Linked DNA regions of Homo sapiens. The protein of the gene in region 3 purifies or fractionates together with the protein of the main gene of each other region. This does not show direct contact. Each region holds a gene or a part of one and is shown on either strand. Other genes may lie near its edges.

The links. Proteins that work in one complex are often made in the same cells at the same time.
Region 1: the proteins of ARRDC3 (region 3) and CUEDC1 purify together in Homo sapiens (co-immunoprecipitation; 3 studies listed by BioGRID and IntAct, with this or other methods). This does not show direct contact.
Region 2: the proteins of ARRDC3 (region 3) and HECW2 purify together in Homo sapiens (co-immunoprecipitation; 3 studies listed by BioGRID and IntAct, with this or other methods). This does not show direct contact.

What each region holds. Positions count from the first base shown.
Region 1 is NC_000017.11:57,868,404-57,875,429, reverse strand, and holds part of CUEDC1 (CUE domain-containing protein 1), read left to right. Parts: intron 1-1,712; coding exon 1,713-1,839; intron 1,840-2,574; coding exon 2,575-2,767; intron 2,768-4,060; coding exon 4,061-4,144; intron 4,145-6,236; coding exon 6,237-6,308; intron 6,309-7,026.
Region 2 is NC_000002.12:196,317,546-196,324,571, reverse strand, and holds part of HECW2 (E3 ubiquitin-protein ligase HECW2), read left to right. Parts: intron 1-1,951; coding exon 1,952-2,094; intron 2,095-4,132; coding exon 4,133-4,233; intron 4,234-4,646; coding exon of another isoform or gene 4,647-4,667; coding exon 4,668-6,020; intron 6,021-7,026. UniProt on the Homo sapiens protein: E3 ubiquitin-protein ligase that mediates ubiquitination of TP73. Acts to stabilize TP73 and enhance activation of transcription by TP73. Involved in the regulation of mitotic metaphase/anaphase transition.
Region 3 is NC_000005.10:91,380,302-91,387,384, forward strand, and holds the start of ARRDC3 (arrestin domain-containing protein 3), read right to left. Parts: upstream 3,017-7,083; 5' UTR 2,792-3,016; coding exon 2,512-2,791; intron 624-2,511; exon of another isoform or gene 46-623; intron 1-45. UniProt on the Homo sapiens protein: Adapter protein that plays a role in regulating cell-surface expression of adrenergic receptors and probably also other G protein-coupled receptors.

The DNA of each region.
Region 1 (7,026 bases), on a different chromosome or scaffold from region 3:
CAGGACCACAGGCCTAGCAGCAAGGAAACTCAGCTGAGAACAGGGGCCTCCTCCACCTTGTGCCCTTCTCCACTTGGAGTCTTCATGGCTAGAGGGGTCCAGGTGCACCTCTGAGGTTCTCCCTCCACTGCTTTCCTGGGTGGCTCCGAGGTGTGGTTAAATTGGGGGTGGGCACCCATGTCCCAGATGAAGACCCTGAGACCTCAAGAACTGGTAATACCCCTGGCGAGGGTCCCTCCCTGCTGTAGCCTGGGGTGGTCTGCGAGTCCCTTAGAGATGAGGCTTCCTCTCTCCCCATCTCTGGCCTTTGGAGAAAAATGAAGCCTCCAACAGTGACAGAAGGTGGCAGTGATGTAGAAAAAAATTTGGCCTAGGAATGGGAGTCCCGGGTTGTGATGCAAGCTGCTCTCCAGACCATTCCCTCTCCCCCTGTGTCTGTGCAGGGAGAGGGTGGACGAGGCGTGCTGGGGTTCCCTTGGCTCCAGTCTGCAAGAGCTGAGCTCCCACCAGGCACTTAGCAGCTGGTTATCCCTTCTGCTGCCGCCCCCGCCCCTTCCCCTCGCCCCCGCCGCCGGCCACCCGCCCGAAATAGAAAAGGAAAGGAAGTTATTTCCATAGTCAGCGGCAGCCCGGAAAAGCTCCCCTCCAGTGAGGGGGCGGGCGGGATTCCTAGAGCTGAAGACCAAATCAAAGCCAGGCCCGAGAGCTAGAGCAGCCCCCACCGCCCGGCCCTCGGCTGCCTTCTCAGTGTGCCGTTTTCCTGATTCAGCGGAACACGTGTCCTGCGGTTGCCACGCTGCAGGCTGCCATGGAGCTGTGGGGACCTCCTGGCCGGGCTCCGAGCTGCCCTCAGGCCCAGGGCGGTAGGGCGGGAGCCTGGGGGTCAGGGAGGGTGTGTGCCACCCCCTCTTCCTCTACTGCCTTGCCCAGCTGTTGGCTCTGCCATGGCACAGAGCTCCTGCCACACACACAACGGGCCTGGAAAGAGCGGCCCCAGAGCACCCTGAGAGCGAGATCCCTTCCACACTCACATCTCCACGCACGTTTTCAGAACATTGCTCAGGACACGGCCTCCTGAGGGGCTCCCCAGCACCTGGGCAGGGAGGCAGCAGTTTCTAGATAAGGAAACCGAGCCCTAGAGGGAACAGGGGCCCACCTAAGACTACCCTGCCGGCTGGTGGTTGAGCCAGAACTGGAGCTCAGATCTGCTTTACCCTCTGTAGGGATCCTGGCGTCCCCATATGCCCCTTCCTCAGCAAACCAGCATGCAGCAGGCTGTGCTGTTGGTGGCTTATGTGTCTGTTCCTTTGGACCATACCTGTCACTCAGCACCATGAGCCTGGCACTGTGTAGGTGCTAGGATAGAAGCATGAAAGGATGCGATCCCTGCTGTCTTTAGGGGACATTTGTAAACATCTATGGCTAAATCCACAGAGTTCCACATGTGCACCGTGGACAGACAGCTCTGTAGGTCCAGAGACCTGGAAGGGCACTGAGTGACTGGAGAGCATGAATGGCTGGGGAGTTCGCTGAGGCTGGTGGAGACATCTCCAGTGATGAGACAGAGTGACGGGCCTTTGTTCTGGAGGCAGTGGAGGCCATGGGAATCTCTGAGCAGGATCCGACCTGCCTGAGGACCTGGTGTGATGGGGCCAGGAGACCTGGGGTTGGGCTTAATGACTTCCTCTTCCCTGTCACCTGCCATCCCCTAGTATCGACGCGCTGGGCTCTGGAGCCCCTACAAGCCAGAGACGCTATCGGAACTGGAACCCACCACTGCTGGGCAACCTTCCGGATGACTTTCTCCGCATCCTGCCCCAGCAGCTGGACAGCATACAGGTAACAGGGGCCGCCCCCGCCTTCCACTCCCACCTGCTTGTCCAGCATCTCTCTTTGCCCACACAATTTGTGCCAGCCAGTTTTACTTCCTGATGTTTAAACCCAGGCTGAGCTATTTCTGTTGCCCTGGGTTCGTAGGGCAGGAATGCTGAACTGAAAGCCTCACTTCCTGCCTGGGCCTGGAGGTTTCCTGTTCTATCCAGGGAAGGTGACAGCCTAAGGAGGCTGTCTGCTGCAGCAGTCACCTCAGGCTGGAGAGAGGCGGGCATGGGGTGGCCAATGGTGGAGGGCCAGAGCACCCCCCTTCCTCCCTTGGGAAAGGGCCAGAGGCTGCTTCTTGCTAGATGTTGGCATGCCCCAAGGTGCCCCACAGCGGGGCAGGTCCACCCTGAGGCTGCTGGTGCAGGGAGAGGGTTGAGTTTGGGAATTGACGTATAGGCTGTTCCACAGTCTGCAGATTTGTTTTCAGGACTGTTCAGGTTGTAGATGAAGGTATGAGGTGGTCTGTGGCGTGGGGGAAAAATAGTTTTTAGGCTACTGCTGTGTCCCCTGCAGCAATGGCTCTGACCTGTCCGTTGGATTTTGGCTCGCAACCAGGTTCCATTAGGAGGTGTGAGCCTCAGGTGAGGGCTGGAGGATGTTGGACAGGGCATGTGTGCAACCAGAGGGATGTGGACGTTTGTGCAACATGTACCCTTGTGTGTACACATTCAACATGCTCGCTTCCCTCCTCAGGGTAACGCTGGGGGCCCCAAGCCTGGGAGTGGAGAGGGATGTCCACCTGCCATGGCTGGGCCAGGGCCCGGAGACCAGGAGAGCCGCTGGAAGCAGTACCTGGAGGACGAGAGGATCGCGCTTTTCCTGCAGAACGAGGAGTTCATGAAGGAGCTGCAACGGAACCGCGACTTCCTCCTCGCTCTGGAGAGAGGTGGGCAGCGCCTGCAGCCACTTCTCCCTGGCTGAAGAAGGGAGGTGATGCTGGCTTTAGCCTTGGGGCTCAGGAAAACACTGAGCTGGGGGCTGAGGGGGCCAGGTGCTTTCTGTCCTATTGAGGCATGACTCCCACCAAGTTATCCCATGGGAGCCTCAGAATTCTGCCTATGGGGACCTGGGTCACTAGCCCACCCCTTTCTCCCTCGGGACTCAGAGGAAGAAGGATGTGCACTCTTAGGCCTTCTTCCCTTTGCACACCTGCTCTGTGCCAGGCACTGGCCTTGGCACAAGGCAGCAGGGAGAAGAGCACTGCCCCTCCTCACAGAGCCCCAGCCCCAAGGCAGGCGTGATGTGTCTGGAGCTCCGGAAACAGAACGACTGGGTTCATGAAGGCCAGGGCGGGGGAGGCTCTTGAGTGGAAGACTTTAGAGCAGGGGCTCTGGAACTTTGCAGGTATTTGGGTTGTCTCTGGGTTGGAGACCCTGCTCCCTAGCCTGGCTGCCTTTCCCCTGCAGGGTGGGAGTGCGTTTGGGGTAGAGGAGACGAGAGGGCTGTGGAGCTCTGTCCCTGTGACGGCCACAGCGTGAGAGCTTGTGTGTGTAACTGATGGTGTGTTGGTGGGGGAGGAGCAAGTTGTGGAGGGAGAAGGCTGGGCTGAGGCCCAAGGTTAGCCCCAGCTCTGCAGCAAAGGTGCTAGAAGCCTCAAGGCTTTTCCGTTTATTTTTTATTTTTTGAGACATAGTCTCGCTCTTGTCACCCAGGCTGAAGTGCAGTGGCTCAATCTCGGCTCACTGCAACCTCCGCCTCCCAGGTTCAAGTGTTTCTCCTGCCTCAGTTTTTCAAGTAGCTGGGATTATAGGCGCACGCCACCGCACCTGGCTGATTTTTGTATTTTTAGTAGAGACGGGGTTTCACCATGTTGGCCAGGCTGGTCTCGAACTCCTGACCTCAGGTGATCTGCCTGCCTTAGCCTTCCAGTGTGCTGGAATTACAGGCATGAGCCACCATCCCTGGCCGTGCCTTTCTTTTTAAATGAGGGGGTTTGGACTCTACAGTCTCTCTGAGTCCTTTTAATTCTGACATTTGAGATGGCTGTCAGGCGGTAGTTTCTTTTACTGCTGGTTCTTTGAGAGCTGGTAGATGTGTGCACTCATATTTTGGGTGCCCGTGTGTGCTCATGTGTGATTCTGGGGACTTAGCCTCTAGCAAACTACCGTGTCCCAGCCCAGCCTGCCCCTGGGAGCCCAGGAGCTAACCTCCCTGACCTGTGAATGTGGTCCTTTTCCAGATCGATTGAAATACGAATCCCAGAAATCTAAATCCAGCAGCGTGGCTGTCGGAAACGACTTTGGCTTTTCCTCTCCTGTCCCAGGTAACTTTGCCTTCTGGGGAAGAAAACCTAGAGGCATAGTGGGGAGCTCACACCCAACTTTGCTTTGCATATTTGGAGTTTGAGAGGAGGGTGAAAAAACAGATTGTGGGAGGGGGCCTGGGCCTCCTCAGCAGGCTGGCGGGGCTGCTTCTGCCCCCATCTCCATATCCAGTCCATTTAGCAGCTCTGGGGTCTTTCCAATCCAGCCACTGCTGGGCTTCAGAGCCCACAGTTGTGTTCAAGTAACATAGGCTGGCTGAACTCTCAACCTATGCCTCGAGTGTAGGCTAGTCAATGACACATGGCCAGGTGCGGTGGCTCACGCCTATAATCCCAACACTTTGAGAGGCCGAGGAGAGTGGATTGCTTCAGCCCAAGAGTTCAAGACCAGCCTGGGCAACAAAATGAGACCCCCCTATCTCTACCAAAAAAGTACTAAAAATTAGCTGGGCATATTGGCCTGTGCTTCTAGTCCCAGCTACTCAGGAGGCTGAGGTGGGAGGATCACTTGAGCCCAGGAGGTTGAGGCTGCAGTGAGCTGTGATTATGCCACTGCACTCCAGCTTGAGTGACAGAGTGAGACCCTGTCTCCAAAAAAAAAAAAAAGAAGAAAAGGACCCCAAAATGCCCCGTGGTGGGGCTCAGAGACTCATAAGTCTTGGTCTGTGTCCTGGGGAAGCTTATGGTCTTGTAAGGAGAAATGCCCAGAAAACAGGTAGAACAAACTAGCAAAGCTGAGGACTTACTGATTTTAGCAAATGCATGGGAAAAAAGGAGGGCAGGATTAATCTGGGGAGTTTACTCATTCATTCATGACATAGCTGGAGAATATCTGCCATCTGTTGGGCCTTGCCCTAGGTGTTGGAGGAAGAGGAATTTCTAGCTTTGTGTACAAGGTGGTGGGAAGTAAGAATTGCCTGTAAAGAGGGCCAGGCCCTTCTGCTCAGAAGCTCTGATGGCTGAAAGAGGGTTGGATAGGGGTGAGGGGGCTGCAGTGCTCCTGGGATGCGCAGACTACTGGGTTGAGCCACAGCTGGGAACGATGACCTGGTGCCTGTGTGCGAACAGTGGCCCCTCATCAGTCAGTGCCCCCTGCCCCACATGTACACAAGCTGCCCACCTCGGAGAAGGGCTCTTGCCTGGAATAGACCTTGCATCATGCAGTGGAGTTGGGGGTGGAGGAGCAGAGGGATGGGGAGCTGAGCTGATCCCAGCTTGAAGGGAGAAAATCCTGTGGAACTGACTCATAAGCAGCAGGCTGGGAGCTTAGGGCTCAGCAGATGTGCAGCTGGGAGTTTTAAGCAGGAGCCTCTTGTCCTTGATCCTGAATTAACTAGAGATACCGGGGCTGCTGAGATGGATCAGAATGACTCAAAGGGGACTTAGCAGGCAAGGTGACTGGGGATTAACCAAGTTGCAGGACAGAGAGCAGGGGCTTCAGAAACCAGCAAAAAACCCAAGTGGATGCTGAGCGAGCCCGGGAGACTCTGGGTGGCCGGTGGGGTTCTGACTCCAGGACTAGTCCCATTCTATTCCTACTCATTGTCTAATAGCCAGAAACCCTGTGGCTGGGAGGGAGCAATGGATGGGCTTACCTGGCAGGAAGGACAAGGGACTTGCTACAGGTGAATGCCGGCTCTGAGCCAGCACCTCATTTGACTGTCACATGAATGTCGGGGTGCAGGAGGCCCCTGGTGTGCTGGTGAATGTTTCACAGCCAACTCTGGGTGCAGCGGGAGCCTGATATGTAGTGCTTGGTGACCTCCATGGTGGAAATACTCCCAAGCTACCAAGGTGATGTCATGAAACATGGAGTTGGTCAGAGGCGTGGACAGTTGGGAGCACACACGAGCTGGCTGTCTGCACACACAGTAGACCGCTGAACCCTCCCCATTTTTACAGAGGAGGAAACAAAGTCCACAAGGGGAAAGAGGAGCTCCTGGAACTCCACATCCTCCTTGCTTTAAACTCCCTTCTGGCCAGGGAAGAAGCCTGCTCTTTCTTTGCATTTGTCCTCAGATGGGTGGGTAGGGCTGGGACAGCGGCCATGGCTGGCCACGGTGGCCGGCCTTCAGCAGGTGTCTCCTTCCAGGAACTGGCGACGCCAACCCCGCTGTGTCTGAAGATGCCTTATTCAGGGACAAGCTGAAACACATGGGAAAGTGTGAGTCCCACTCAGGCCCCGCTTCCCTCCCCAGCTTTTCTGAGACAGGCCCTGTGGCCTCCCAGGAGTGAGGGAGCCCCTCAGCACATGTAATGCAGCTGACTCTTGGTGAACCAGTGACATTTTCATCGCAGGCTGGCTCCCTCAGCCTTCCTGCCTCACTTCCCTCTACAGCTGAGTCTAGATACAAATTAAGTTTTAAATCCTCTTGAGCCAGATGTCTGCAGAAAAATAACGTGCCACACATGCCCTCACCGCAATCCTCATGTTCACGTTCTCTGTGGCTCGAGGAGGCTTGGCCGGAGCTGACTGCACAGAGAGGCCCTTGCTAAGCCTCTGTGGGGGTGGGGGACCTCTTTCCACAAAGTCCTACCAGCCTTGAATGCCCCCTTCCCTCCCCCTCACCTCCCCGCCACACAGACCCACAGCCATGTGTGAATGAGGCTGCGATCCTTTCAGGCTCCATTTCAAGGAAAATCTCGGATTAGTCATGGAAATCCCAGAACCAACTTTGGAGGTGGCTAGGGGAGGGGCGGGAAGGCGGTGGCGGCGGGAAAGCGAGCCAAGATGCGTTGCAGTGTGTTGCAGCTGGGGAGGGAATACTTGGATCTTGAGCCGCCTGCGGTCCCTGGGCCTGGCTCAGGGTGTCCTGTGCTGCCCCTGCAGGCTGACCCAGGATGTAGCCTCTTGCTCCTGGGGTGGCGTCCTCAGGGGTCTG
Region 2 (7,026 bases), on a different chromosome or scaffold from region 3:
AAATTTTGATATTTTGTTGTAGCATACATTTAGTACAAATTAAAGGAATTTCTCTCTCTGCGGGCTTTGGCAAATGTTTTATGAATTTCTAGAGTTTTGTTAATTAGATGAGCCATTCAAGGAGTCATCATCCTGAGTGAAGCCAGATTGTGTTGATGGTATTTTAGACTTCCTCACAGCTACAGTATGCTACCAGTCATCTTAGTGCACCATATCAGTGAAATCAAGCAAAGGGTTTTCTCATTTGAACTACGGAAAGTCAAAGAATGAACAAATAGACACTTCTTATCTAGTGAGCAAAGCTTGAGCTCTCCCTCCATTTCTTGGAGATCTGAGGCATGTTTTACATAACTAGTGTGAAAATCTTTCTGGGCTGGCATAGGAGTTACACAGTTAATTAGATCATACCCTAAATATTTAATGACAACAATATGTTCTAACAATATTGTAGAAATATTTAATTGGAGAGAGGTATATCAGGGGATCTAAAACCGATTGCAGAAAAGATATAGTTATCTGAGACTTGCCAACACAGCAAGGCATTTCTCCTGGGCAGTTCCTATGGTTTTAGATATTGAATATTGCTTGTATTCTTACACTTGGTTTAAGAAACTACTAATGATCTCATCATGGTAAAAAAAAAAAAAAAAAACAAACAAAAAACAAAAAAAACTCTTAAGGGCATGCCACTTAGTCTAATGCATTTCAAAGCCTAGAAGAAATAAAAATATATCTCAATATGATTCTAGAAAGCACATAATAGATATGATAATGAAACAAGCAGTAACTATTTTCCTAACATTTTAAATTTGCAAAGTTTTTGACCATGTCACCAGTGCAAGCCTGAAAGGGAGGCACGAAGGATGAGATTATTATGTCTTCATTTTGGTGATTAAGAAATTGAAGCTTAAAGTGTTTATGGGACTAGCTATTCAGAGACAGAAGTGGGGATTAAACTCGGCTTTTTTATTCTAAGCAAGTACTTTTTTCCATTAAGCAGACTGCCAAATTGCTTGGCCCTTTGGAAAACCTTAATTGTTATGACTAGATAAACCTAGAGGCACCTAAGTGAAAAGTTGGCTAACACTATTCACATCACTATAGTTGCATGGATACTGTCAGGGAAGCAGTGAAATAATTTAGGTTAGATTCCTGGCACCATCATTTACTTATCCTGAGATTCTCATCTTCAAAAAGAAAGTTACATCGTTGTAAAGATAAAGTGAAGATAATATATGTAAAAGTCTCTGTGAGTAAAGCTCTTCATATTTATTTTATATCCTTATTAATGTCCGATCCAAATTTCCCCAGTGGCATTCTTAAAATGAAAACAACAAAAGCTATCTTAACCTCATACTTTTATTTTTCTGTCCCAGAAGAAATGACCCTGTATGCCTTTTAAACTTAAGGAAAAATTCCATTTAAACATTCTTTTAACATTTATCAGGGAAACCACAGTATTCTGCAGATGTTCCTATTTTAACCACTAAGTGGAGGAGTATTTTCAACTATGTTTTGCAACTTCAGAATTTCATGAGATTAGGAATTCAAATTGTCAATCAAATATACTAGTTAATTCTAATCCATTCTATAACAAGATATTAAATATCAAAGAATTGAGATACAATAAATGTAGGGAGTACTAAAATTGCATTGTGCATAACTTAATATTTGATAACATCTCCTAAAACTGTGAAACTAGGAAGGGCTGCATGATTGACTGAGAGGGCTTCTTTTGTCATACAGATCCTTGACTGCTGCTTTTTAATCATGGTGAATGCTAATCATTCTGAGTGAATAAAGGATTGACAATAGCTGCAGCTATTTCTAGCTATGTGGAACTCTGTATGTTGTTAGAATTTAAGAGATACCATTTCCTATACAAATAAAATGATATAGTATCATATTTGTCTTTCTTTTAAACCAGCATGTTATCTGTTTGTGTTTTCAGAAATATTCCTTTTTTGCACTTCTTACTGATGTCTTAGAAATTGAAATTAAAGACAAATTTGCCAAGAGCCGTCCCATCATCAAGCGTTTTCTGGGGAAACTAACCATTCCAGTCCAGAGGCTGCTGGAGCGACAAGCCATCGGGTAATCAGCCCTTACCTTTGGGGATCTTGTTGAGATTAGTTCATATAGGAAAAAATGACATGAAACTTGGTAGTCCTAGGACTTTTCATACTGATAAGAAGTAGTAACACAATTCTTTTAAAAATAAAAGTGTCCTTACACTTATTAAAATGTACTTGACAAAAAAGTAGTTTATTTTAATTATATATGTTTTTTGCGTCTTTATCTTTTCCAAGATGTACCCACTGTTAATATTTCAGTGTCAAATCTCATAGTGTTTGATTGTCTCTCAGTATATTGGAGCTTTTTATAAAAACTTCTCCCTGGGGCAGAATTCTTGGATCAGGTTGATGCCTACCTTATCCTAAATAATTCCATCCAGAGAACTTGTTACTCTTGAAAAACGGAAACAATCTTGTCTTGGAGCCATTTAAAACGAGACCTAGACTTGAAGAAGTGTTATAATAAAGCTCCTAGACATATACATTCATTCAAGCAACTAAAATTTATTCATTGACATTCTCTTAAAATTTAATGTGTAATTAATGTCTATTTTCTTTTTGTGAGCTTTTTGTAAGTTGTGAGTAAAGTAGTAAGTCATACTGAGGAGATAGAGAAGACCAAAAACAAGTTATGCAAATTAATAATGCATAGCTGACTAGAGGCTCTAAACTGTACAGTGGAGCAAAGAGTAGATAGAAGAAACATTGTATCTTCCTTCTGAAATAGCCATTAGAGGGCAGAGGTGGAGTGATTTGGCACTATCCTTTTGATGATTTTCCTTAATTAAGAATAAGTTGGCCGGGCACGGCAGCTCATTCCTGTAATCCCAGCACTTTGAGCGGACGAGGTGGGCAGATCACCCGAGGTCAGGAGTTCGAGACCAGCCTGGCCAACATAGTGAAACCCTGTCTCTACTAAAAATACAAAAAAATTAGCTGAGTGTGGTGGCGGGCACCTATAATCCCAGCTACTTGGGAGGCTGAAGCTGGGAGAATTGCTTGAACCCGGGAGGTGGAGGTTGCAGTGAGCCAACATTGCACCACTACACTCCAACCTAGGCAACCCGGGCAACAGAGCGAGACTCTGTCTCAAAAAAAAAAAAAAGAGAGAAAAAGAATAAGTCATTTAATTCAGAATAAGATTGTTACTTGTGTGCAGGAAAATGAAATGACTGCATTTGACTTTGATAAAGAAACAGACTTGAAACAGATGGAAAACTCCATCCTTCAGGAGGCAGACAGTCCAAGCCCGGGGCCCAGGCAAGGCAAAAACTAAACCTGCTTCCAGATCTGGGATATGACCCCACCACAGGGGCACATCTGGCTTTGCCAACCATCCCATCAGCACTGCTTACAAGGCACCCTGAGAATCAGTGATAGGCCAGGCTTCCCAGCAGGGAAGGCCAGCAGCTCCAGCCTCCTTACTCTACAGGTGAGGAAGGAGAGCTTAGCGGTCCTCTCCCCATCACACAGCCAGGGCTGCTGTCTTGGCTATGAAGGGCGCTTTCATTCTTGTGTTCTTGTGCTTCTCTCCCCTAAGTCCCAGCTCCTGTTCTTCAGGGCATAGCACAGTGCCCTACGTGCCATGTTGGGTGATAATCCTTAGCTGTGAGTGTCCTTTTAGAACCAGCTTTCTGTTGTGCTAAATGCCGAGGAACCAGGCTCTCTCCCCTTTTACACCCGAGTCAAAAAACCCCTAAAACTTGAGGCCTTTCACAACTCCTTTATGACCTTCAAAATGTCCTTTTCCTGGTCACCCTTAAAAGTGAGAGAGTGAATCAGTGTCCTTAAAAATATCACATAGCATATGATGTCTTGTGCTCGTAATAATAATTTTTCTTATGGCAACATTTCCTTTTATCTCCGGGTTTATAAGTGTTCCATTTGTATGAATGAATAATATTACATTGGACTATAATGGGCTTTGAGCCTTTAATGTTCTTGTGAGTCTGAAAGTTTTAAGAGAGATAGGAGGGATTTGGTGGGTGGCCTGTGGAAAGACGGCGAAGGCTGACTCCAGCGTAGTCAGGATGAAAGAAGCATTTCTCTTCTTGCAGTGATCAAATGCTCAGCTACAACCTTGGCAGAAGGCTCCCAGCTGACCACGTGAGTGGGTACCTCCAGTTTAAAGTGGAGGTTACGTCTTCTGTTCATGAAGGTGAGATATAAATATATCTGTATGAATACATTGCTATAGGAAAAACTTGTTAAACCTAACTCGATTGTCAGTTTGCTTCTGAACAGAATTGAATTCATGTTCTGTTTTGAAAGTAAAATAGCTGTCAAATAATTACCTGCTGAAATTTTCTAAGCAAGTAGGAAAGGCTGTTTGCCCAAAAATGTCTCTTAGATTGATGCCTGCATTTTGAAACTGGGCTGTAGAGTTTTCAGCCATGCTAACATACATAGCTCCTGTGCCAAGCTGACTAGCAGTCTCCTCATTTAGTAGTGAGTGGTGAATCTTAGCAAGTCAGTAGAAAGCCCTCAGAATGACTGATTTCTTTGAACTTATTGGTGGCAAAGCAAATAAGTCATAAAACGTTCACTTATTATTTCTGGTTAATTTTTTAGAAATGCTGTTTTCTCATTCAGATGCCTCTCCAGAAGCTGTTGGCACAATACTTGGAGTCAATTCTGTGAATGGAGACTTAGGTAGCCCTTCCGATGACGAGGACATGCCAGGGAGCCATCACGACAGCCAGGTGTGCTCTAATGGGCCAGTTTCTGAGGACAGTGCTGCCGATGGAACCCCCAAGCATTCATTCAGGACTAGCTCCACTCTGGAAATAGACACAGAGGAATTAACCTCTACGTCTTCAAGGACCTCACCTCCCAGAGGACGTCAGGATTCACTCAATGATTACTTAGATGCTATCGAACACAATGGCCACTCCAGGCCGGGGACAGCGACCTGCTCTGAGAGGTCCATGGGTGCCTCTCCGAAACTGAGGAGTAGTTTTCCCACTGACACAAGACTCAATGCCATGCTTCATATTGATTCAGATGAAGAAGATCACGAGTTCCAGCAAGACCTGGGTTACCCATCTTCCTTGGAGGAGGAGGGAGGCCTGATCATGTTTAGCAGGGCATCCAGAGCTGATGATGGAAGCCTGACATCTCAGACAAAGCTGGAGGACAACCCTGTTGAGAATGAGGAAGCCTCCACACACGAAGCTGCTTCCTTTGAGGATAAGCCAGAAAATCTTCCAGAGCTTGCAGAGAGCTCCTTACCTGCAGGCCCAGCCCCAGAGGAAGGTGAAGGCGGCCCAGAGCCTCAACCCAGTGCTGACCAGGGCAGTGCTGAACTGTGTGGCTCTCAAGAGGTAGATCAGCCCACAAGTGGCGCAGACACAGGGACTTCCGATGCATCAGGAGGAAGCCGAAGAGCCGTCAGTGAGACCGAGTCTCTCGATCAGGGCTCTGAGCCTTCCCAGGTGTCCTCTGAAACAGAACCCAGTGATCCTGCCAGGACAGAGAGTGTGAGCGAAGCCAGCACCAGGCCTGAGGGAGAGAGTGACCTGGAATGCGCTGACAGCTCCTGCAATGAGAGTGTGACCACGCAGCTGTCCTCTGTGGACACACGGTGCTCCTCTCTTGAGAGCGCACGGTTTCCTGAAACCCCAGCCTTTTCTTCTCAGGAGGAGGAAGACGGAGCCTGTGCAGCAGAGCCCACCAGCAGTGGCCCTGCCGAAGGGTCGCAGGAATCCGTGTGCACTGCTGGTTCTTTACCTGTGGTACAGGTGCCCAGTGGGGAGGATGAAGGGCCAGGGGCAGAATCGGCCACTGTACCTGACCAGGAGGAGCTGGGGGAGGTCTGGCAGCGGAGGGGGAGCCTGGAGGGAGCTGCAGCTGCTGCCGAGAGCCCACCGCAAGAAGAAGGCAGTGCTGGGGAGGCCCAAGGCACCTGTGAAGGGGCAACTGCCCAGGAGGAGGGCGCTACTGGAGGTAGGATATGGACACCACTGTGGCTCTTGGCTCGAGCGTAGCTGTGCAGAGAGAAGTTCTGTAGTTTTCCCCTCAATGTAAATAAGGCTGCAGGTTACATATGACCTGAATTCCTCACCTTGAGGTTCAGCAGGCAAGAAGAGAGGCAAGATTGAAAACAGGGCCAGGAAGAGAAGGAAACAGGTAACAAATGAGTGGGCAGCTGAAACCCTTCCTCTAGATTAGGCCTCCTGTTTCTGAGCGGGGAGACCTTGGGACTTAATCACATAGCTAGGAAGAAGGCAGCATGGTTTGCATCCAGATGGGCTTGAGTTCAAATTCAGTGCTCTTTTAAAAAATGGCTCTTCTGCTGCTGAAGTAACAGGCCTGTTAAACAGCAATCTTCAAACTTAAATAATGGGTCTCTATTGGAACCGGGGTTTGTAGATACACAACCAAACAGGCTGGCAGCTTCAACCTTAGTGTAATCTGCAAAGGTTATGAGAAACACCTAGCCACTCTTCCTTTCTAAAATTTCACAGTGGAAGATTAATGTATGCTATGCATCAAAGGTAGTGTTTTTGTCTTCTACAATTTAGGAATGTCAACTAAGTTAGGTGATGTCTTCTGACTTGGAGAATAAGCTGTTTTTGTATCCAAGGACACAAATTTACACCTGAAATTTGTATTACGCTCAGTGAATGCAGCTCTCTAGAATGATTCCTTTAATATGCCCTGTAAGGATGCATTAAAAATCAAAGAGCAATTTCATATGTCTGGCTGGCATAACTCAGAAATAGGAATGATTTTCTTTTTCTGTAATGTATTTTTCTACCTACATGATCCCCTTCTTTTCTTCCTCCTCCTTTTTTTTTTTAAATTTTGTTTCCTTCATTATATTGTAGCCACCATGTGACCCTAAAGCATTAGCGCATGACCAGGACAGAGGCCGTTATGGGTGAGGGATGAGGCAGGGGAAGCTGCAGGAGCGGGGGATACATGCAGAGGACATTTCTTCAGGAAGCCC
Region 3 (7,083 bases):
TAGCCTGCTGGCCGGGGGGCGGGGCGAGCGAGCCGCGGCGCTTCCGCTTTACACGCCCCAGCCGGCGACCGGTTCCATCTGGCTCGGGCCACTCTGACACCTTTAGTTTCGGCAAGGGATATTGGGGTGGCGAAGGGGAGGCGGGGGCCCGAAGGCTTCGGAAAACGATGGGGGAGGGGGCAGAGGATACCCGTCGAAGCCCCCCCCTCCCCCAACATTTCGATATTGGAATCACTTTCCTTCTTCCTCGGGCCAGCCTTTGCTCTGTCCCCTCAGGTCAACTCAAGGTAGACAGTGTGGCGACTGGAGAGGTCGGGGAACAAGCTTTGTTTCAGCTAAGGGGAAAACAAGCGTTCACAGGAGTCCCCTGACACCTCCCACTCGGAAGATAGCTAACGGGGGTCCTGCCAACCCTTCCCATCCAACTTCCATCTGAAAAGGATTTTCTGCTAAAGTTGGGTCCATGGCCATCCAGCACCTGTAAGGCCGGCAGGAGCGTCTGCCCTCTACTCAGTTAAAGCCTGAAGTCGTTTCCTTTCGATGGCCCTTAGGAGGCCCAAAAGAGGGGCGACAGAACATGATGTTGACACGGGCTGGGCGCCCCCAGAAGCCCGGGAACAAACGTGAGTACGGGCTGGGTGGGGGTCGCTCTGGAGGAACCTTTACCGGCGCACGCCGGTTTCCTAGCCTCGCCCCAGCCGCGGCGCGAGCTCACTCTCCCCACCCGCCCGCGCCCAATCCAATCAGCGCCTGCCATCGCCTTAGCAACAGGCTAACAAACCTGGCTCCGCCTATCCCGGGCGCCCGGGGCGGGGTCTCAGTTACCAGGCTAGTTTGAGAGCTCCCAGTTTCAAGTCATTGAAACTATTCCAGACTGAGCTCGTCTACGCGTTGCAGGGTTTGGGGGGCATTTTGTTGGGGGTGCAGGGCATTTAGTTTTCTTTACCACGAAATCATGGTGCAACTAATGAAATTATATTTGTCCTCACATCTCGTTGTTCTACTTTTCCCCACTGCAAGTCTTAACCCCTTGAGGAAAAATCTGTTTTCTTTCATCCGTTTCATAAAAGGCTGCAATATTCAGAAAGGTACAAACACAAAGTCATCTATCTGCTTTTCAACAAATACCAAGGCTGTCATTAGGCATTTGCATCTCCTATCAGTGTTAACACTTGGAGAGATTAATTAGTTATTTCAGGATGCAAAGTACCTGTATCTAACTACGAAAATCCTGCTAAAGAACTGAGTTCACCTTAATAGTTTCAAAAATAATGCATTAATACTGTCCCTCAAAGCATCCTTCATTTCTCACTTGCCTTAGTCATCAGCACTTCTCCAGGATGTACGTTTTTAATATAAAAAATAAGGTAAAATATGTCTCTAATTTTTTTTCTGAAAAATCGCCAACATCTGAACTAAATACTGCATTAAAAAGGAGAGGCACAAAAATTACATAACCAGTTTTAACATTATATTCTTCTTGGGCTAGGAATTAAGTCATCGCCACCACCTGACGCGTGTAACCAATCTGCTGAGAGCAGAACAAGCGCCCCTCCTCACCACCCCCCAGAACTGGTCCGAAACAGGATTGAACCGCTTCTAACAAAGGGTGGAAACTTAGAAAAACAAGCCTAGAGTCTCCTATATTTCCACAATGTAACCATTTAAACAATAGATTGGAAATCTCAGGACTCCTTCTCCTTTTGACAACCCTTTATCTCTCTCTTCTAACCAAAAATCAAATCCAGTGTGCCCTATACTTTTCAATTCCATTTGACTGGCATGGGTTTCATTGAATGCACGTTCCAAAGTTAGACATGATGCTCGGAAAAGAAAATTACTGATCCTAAATGGCTTCTAAACCTGACTCGATACCTATCATAATGACAGATAGTCATTCCTTTAAAATAAGGAATGCTGGGTGTAAATTTTTAAAGGAATGGTAAAGAATAGAGAAAAAACACGTGGGGTGTTGATACCATATGTCAAAATAAGCCACAGAAATCTTTTATGAAAGAACAGTCATCAATTATTTAAAGTCTTTTGCATTCCAATATTAAAAATGAAACACACCCATTAAGTCTCTTAAAAATGTTATTACATTTCTTGATCGAAGTTCAGTTTTTACATCTTAGGTTGCAAGTAAAAGGGCAAAAATCTAAGACTGCAGCTTTTACCAATTCATTTGAAAATATATTAGTAAAACGACTGAATTGGATTCAAACAGAATTTATAAGTAAGGTGCAAATGGACTACAAGTGCGTGTGGCACAGACCGAGCCGGGTACAGAGGTAGCTGAATAAGTGTAGTTTGCAGTCACTTTGCAGATGCCTGCATGCATTACGGCTTAACACACGATGAACGTCAAGGAGAATCCAAACCTTCCAACTTTGCTAACCTTTCTCAAACTGCTTAGTTATGCTAGGAGTAGAATCACGTTAATTCAGAAAACTGAAAAGGTACGTTTCCAAAGAAAATGAGTCCAATGACTTATGAATAACAAAAACTTACCTCTTTCGTGCCCAATTAAGATGTCTTTATGGTTGAAATACTCTACTTCTTCAGTGTAATTCTGTGTATAGGCAGTATTGGAGCCGGCGTTTCTAGATTCAGTCCAGCGTACTTTCGCATGTCCTCTTGCATGAATTTTAAGAGATTTTACTCTGATTTCCCCAGTAACTTCTAAATTTACCCTTCCTGAGACGGTATCCCCACTAGAATACACAGGGACATTGCTGTCATTAAGACAGTCAAAGCTTATTGTCAAACTCTTCACCTTTCCCAGCACCATGTTTATAACAAAATCTATAAAAATATAATGTAAGACAAAAAAGTCAAGATCGCATATAAAATGTGATCTTCACTTAACACTGATCGATATTTTTGCCGTGCAAAATGCTTGCAGGCCGGATCAGTGATTCTCTACAAATAGTTCATTGAGATTTCTTAAAAAGTCAGGGCAGCAGAGGCTGCTGCTCCGCGCTCCCGCTCGTCTCAGTGGTCTCCTTACAAAGACGGGCGGCTAAAAGCTGCCAGCTCACTTTAAGAGCAGCTTTGTGAAAAACAACCCCAGTGCGCAGGCGCAGGCCGCGGCTGCTGTCCGCCCTCCCTGCGCGCCCCCTCCCGCGCCGCGCCGCGCCGCGCTCGCTCCCTTGCCCGCTCGCTCCCGGGTACAGTAGGTGTAGAGCTAGGGGAAGGAGATACTGGAGCTGCTGGCCGGCTGAACCTGACTTCTCTTCATTGTGGGCTCCTATTGGTAGGCAGGCTACCGTATACCCTCGACGTGCTATCTGGAGCCCGTTACCGAGCGCACTCTACTAGAAAGATAATGGCAGAGTGGGGTGCGAGGGTACAAGGGCTGGGTGGGGAGTTTGCAAAGCCAAGTTAGGATAAACTGCAGCGACCAGCCCGAAGCGTGCGTTACCGGCACTGCAGCGTTTTACCAACTGCCTGGATGGGAGGAGGAAAAAGTGATGTGTGAAGAGAGATGGGGGAAGGGAGAAACCGGTTGGGCAAGCGGCCGATTGTTGAGCATAATCTAACGAATTTCCAAAGAAAACGTAATAAAACCGGACAAGAAATATTGTTCATAGACAAGAGCATACTTTGCTTGGATTTTTTTTTTTTAAACCAGTACTTTGTAGGCAGGTTGGAAATGAACTCAGTCGAGGTCAAAGGAACCTTAATCCTTTGAAGAGCGAGGTAGAGAAGCAAGTACAATGTAATCAATAGGCTTTGCTGTCTCCTCAACTTCTTTCTCCTACATTGCTTAATTAGCACCGAAAAACAACCAAGTTGTTTCCAGGATGACACGGGTGGGGGCTGGGGGAAGCTTGATCACTTCCTCGAAGGAAGAAAAAGTCCTTTTAAGACACCACCTACGGCTAGATTTGCAGAGTAAGACATGATTACAACTCCTGTGTCCAGAGGAATAAGAATAGAGTTCGGCCTAAAAAAGTACTACCTTATAAAAGGCATATGACATAGTGGTTTAGCTGACATATTGTTTGCAACAGAATCGGAAAATCTTTGTTAGAAATTAGTGAAGCGCATAAAATTGTTTTTAAAAAGCATGATTTGGTATATAAATAGGGATTTAACTGTGTGAAGCTTTAATTTTCGGCCGAGAGCCTTGGACCATTTAACGTAGTAATTCTCATGATACATCTTAAATATAGGTACATTTCTCTTTTTATTGTGAATGTTTGGTAAAAAATAGCAGTGCTTTCGTCACATCACACTGGGATTCAGAGCATAACAGCATAAACTCATCTAGATTACTGGCAATCAACAGAACTGCCTTACAAGAGAAATGTAGAAAGAAAAAATATGAATCTGGTGCTCTCTCTATATATATATGTATGACCAAAAATACCTTGGAAGATTTTTGGCTGTCCGTGTCTAAACGTTTTAGATTCTTTTGCGTAGTGTATATGGATAGGTTGAGCCTATGAGTCACAATAAACTAAACTTATTGGTCTTGCTGTTTTATTTCAAAAGAAACTAAGCTTTTGGGGGTTGGATTTTAGTTGACAAGGCAATATCTTGGACTCAACAGCAATATATAAAGAGTATAAATATGCAAACTAGACAATTAATGAGCAGGCCATTTATTTCAGAGTTTAGATCGCTATGCATAAAATTATAAATTTGCATATTTAAGTGGGAAAAACAGTCTTATCTTTTCCCTACCTCTTGGTTGACACCTGGTGGAAATTCTAGGTAAAGTACCTGGGGCCTTGTACTAGCTTTGATTACAGATACTACTTGTGTTTTTTCTCCACCTAGTGGTAGAAGTGGTGAATTTCCTAGAATGACAGCTTTTCCTCAGCATAAGGTCAATGATATTTAATAAGCATTCGAAAACCACTGAGCAAGGAATGGATTTAAAAGTGTAGTCCATAATGAATACATAAATTCATTGCACATTTGTGTCTACATTTATGTTAAAAATTATTAAGGGTTAGTGAACAGCTGAATTCGGATTTTTTTAGTAAAATTTATTTAATTAGAATATAACTCATTTCAGAAAAAATAAGAATTAGCTATATAAATACACCAGAATTGCATTTAATAAAAAAGAAGTCTAAGAAATTTATTTGTAGTTTGGAAAATTGTTTTAAAATATTAAATGTTTCATTCCTGTCACTGTGTAGTACATTATTCTTTGTGTTTGAAGCTTTCAGGATCTTTTGAATAGTTGTCTTTATTATTTATTTTGCTATTTTTAAAATTTTCTTTTTACTGTGTCTTCTTAAATACTTAGGTAACTGGCAAATTTCCAAGAAATTCTTACCAGCTGCCATTTTCATTATATTTTTATTTTTTGAGATGGAGTCTCACTCTGTTGCCCAGGCTGGAGTGCAGTGGCACAATCTAGGCTCTCTGCGGCCTCTGCCTCCCGGGTTCAGGCGATTCTCCTGCCTTAGCCTCCGGAGCAGCTGGGATTACAGGCACGCACCACCACCTCTGGCTACTTTTTGTATTTTTAGTAGAGACAGGGTTTCACCATGTTGGCCAGGCTGGTCTTGAACTCCTAGCCTCAAGAGATCCACCCGCCTTGGCCTCCCAAAGTGCTGGGACTATAGACATGAGCCGCTTGCGCCTGGTCTCGCTTTATCTTTTCAATTCTTAAAAACAAAAACAAAAACAAAAACGCTTGGACCAAATTTTGAATGTTTTCTCTTGTCGCTTTCATAACTTCCCCCTTTCAGATTTTTTGTCTAAATAGCTACTCCTTAGACAGCTTGAAATGCTGTACTGTAGACATTATCTTGGGCTTCTCAGCTTGCTTCACTGGGCCATTATTGTATTTTGTATTATATTTAAACTATTCGTCTTTACCATCAAGGCTCTTTCCTACTTCTCCCCAGCCTACGTCTCATATGCCATCTCCTCCTACTCATCTGCTAACTCTCTATAATCCTGTCAAGTACATCTTCTGTCCCCTTTGTTAGCTTGTCTCACTGTTGCCAGTATGCAGTTACATGTGCTTTTGGTGCCCAGAATAACATCCCACTACTATGTTATCTCCTTTGCTTTTTTCTAATCCCTCCACTAGATGCAGTTGGCACTACTGAGTAAAATTCCAACTAGACTGAATAACTAGCTTCCCTTCCCCTTTCATTGCTTCTTCAGAGCTTAAGTAGGAATCTCTTTTTATATTAGCTTTTGAGTCAAATGGCTCTTTCACCTTAATATATTAAAGTTTGAACTCAATCTCAAGAACTCTATCAAAGACTGATAAATGATCATTGCTGTCAAGTTGTATGATATTGAGGAGATATGTTAAGATTACTGCCAAGTTTGGAGTTTTTTGCATATTATATCAACATGCTCAATATTTTTATTTTTAAAAAAAAAGGAAGCCATCTCAACTGGAAGTTTTGGTGTTTGGTTGAAAAAAAAAAAAACCTACCAGTAGTCAGAATCTGTTTCATAAAGAAAAATATGAAATCTATGCTTAATCTATTTTAACTAGCAGCTGATAGGCTCGAGTGCTATGGGACTAAGGGGGATTTTTTTCCTTTGGTCTTAATTCTGTATTTCAAGATTTTGTAACTCTGACTTAACTCTTTAATATCGTCACAGTGCAGCAAATTTGGCATGCAGACTGGACAGAAGACTTGCTGTATTATTAGCAAAATGAGTAGTATTTGTTTTTTAGCTTTGAGAGCTATTACAAACATAACGCATATTATGTTTGTTATGTTCTTCATACTTAATAGACTTTTAAATATGTTATGGATTTTGTGATGAAACTCACTATCAAATTTGGATTCTGATATCCTTCATTAATAAATAGTATAATTTGTGTTATGTGAACACCATTTAATCTGTTATATTTTATTTCTTGATTAAAAGAAAATCACCCATAATTCTACTGTCCGTCCATTCAGAGACACCACTGTTAACATTTTGGTGTATTTCCATCCAGATGTACAACTAAAGAAGAGCATTGCCAGTGAAGCTATGGCAGTGCATATTATCATGTAGAAGATGAGTTGGTAAAGTTTATTCATCTAAGCTCAAATGGCATCTGGTCTACAGAAAGAATTAGGAATGCTAAATTTCTTTTCTGAA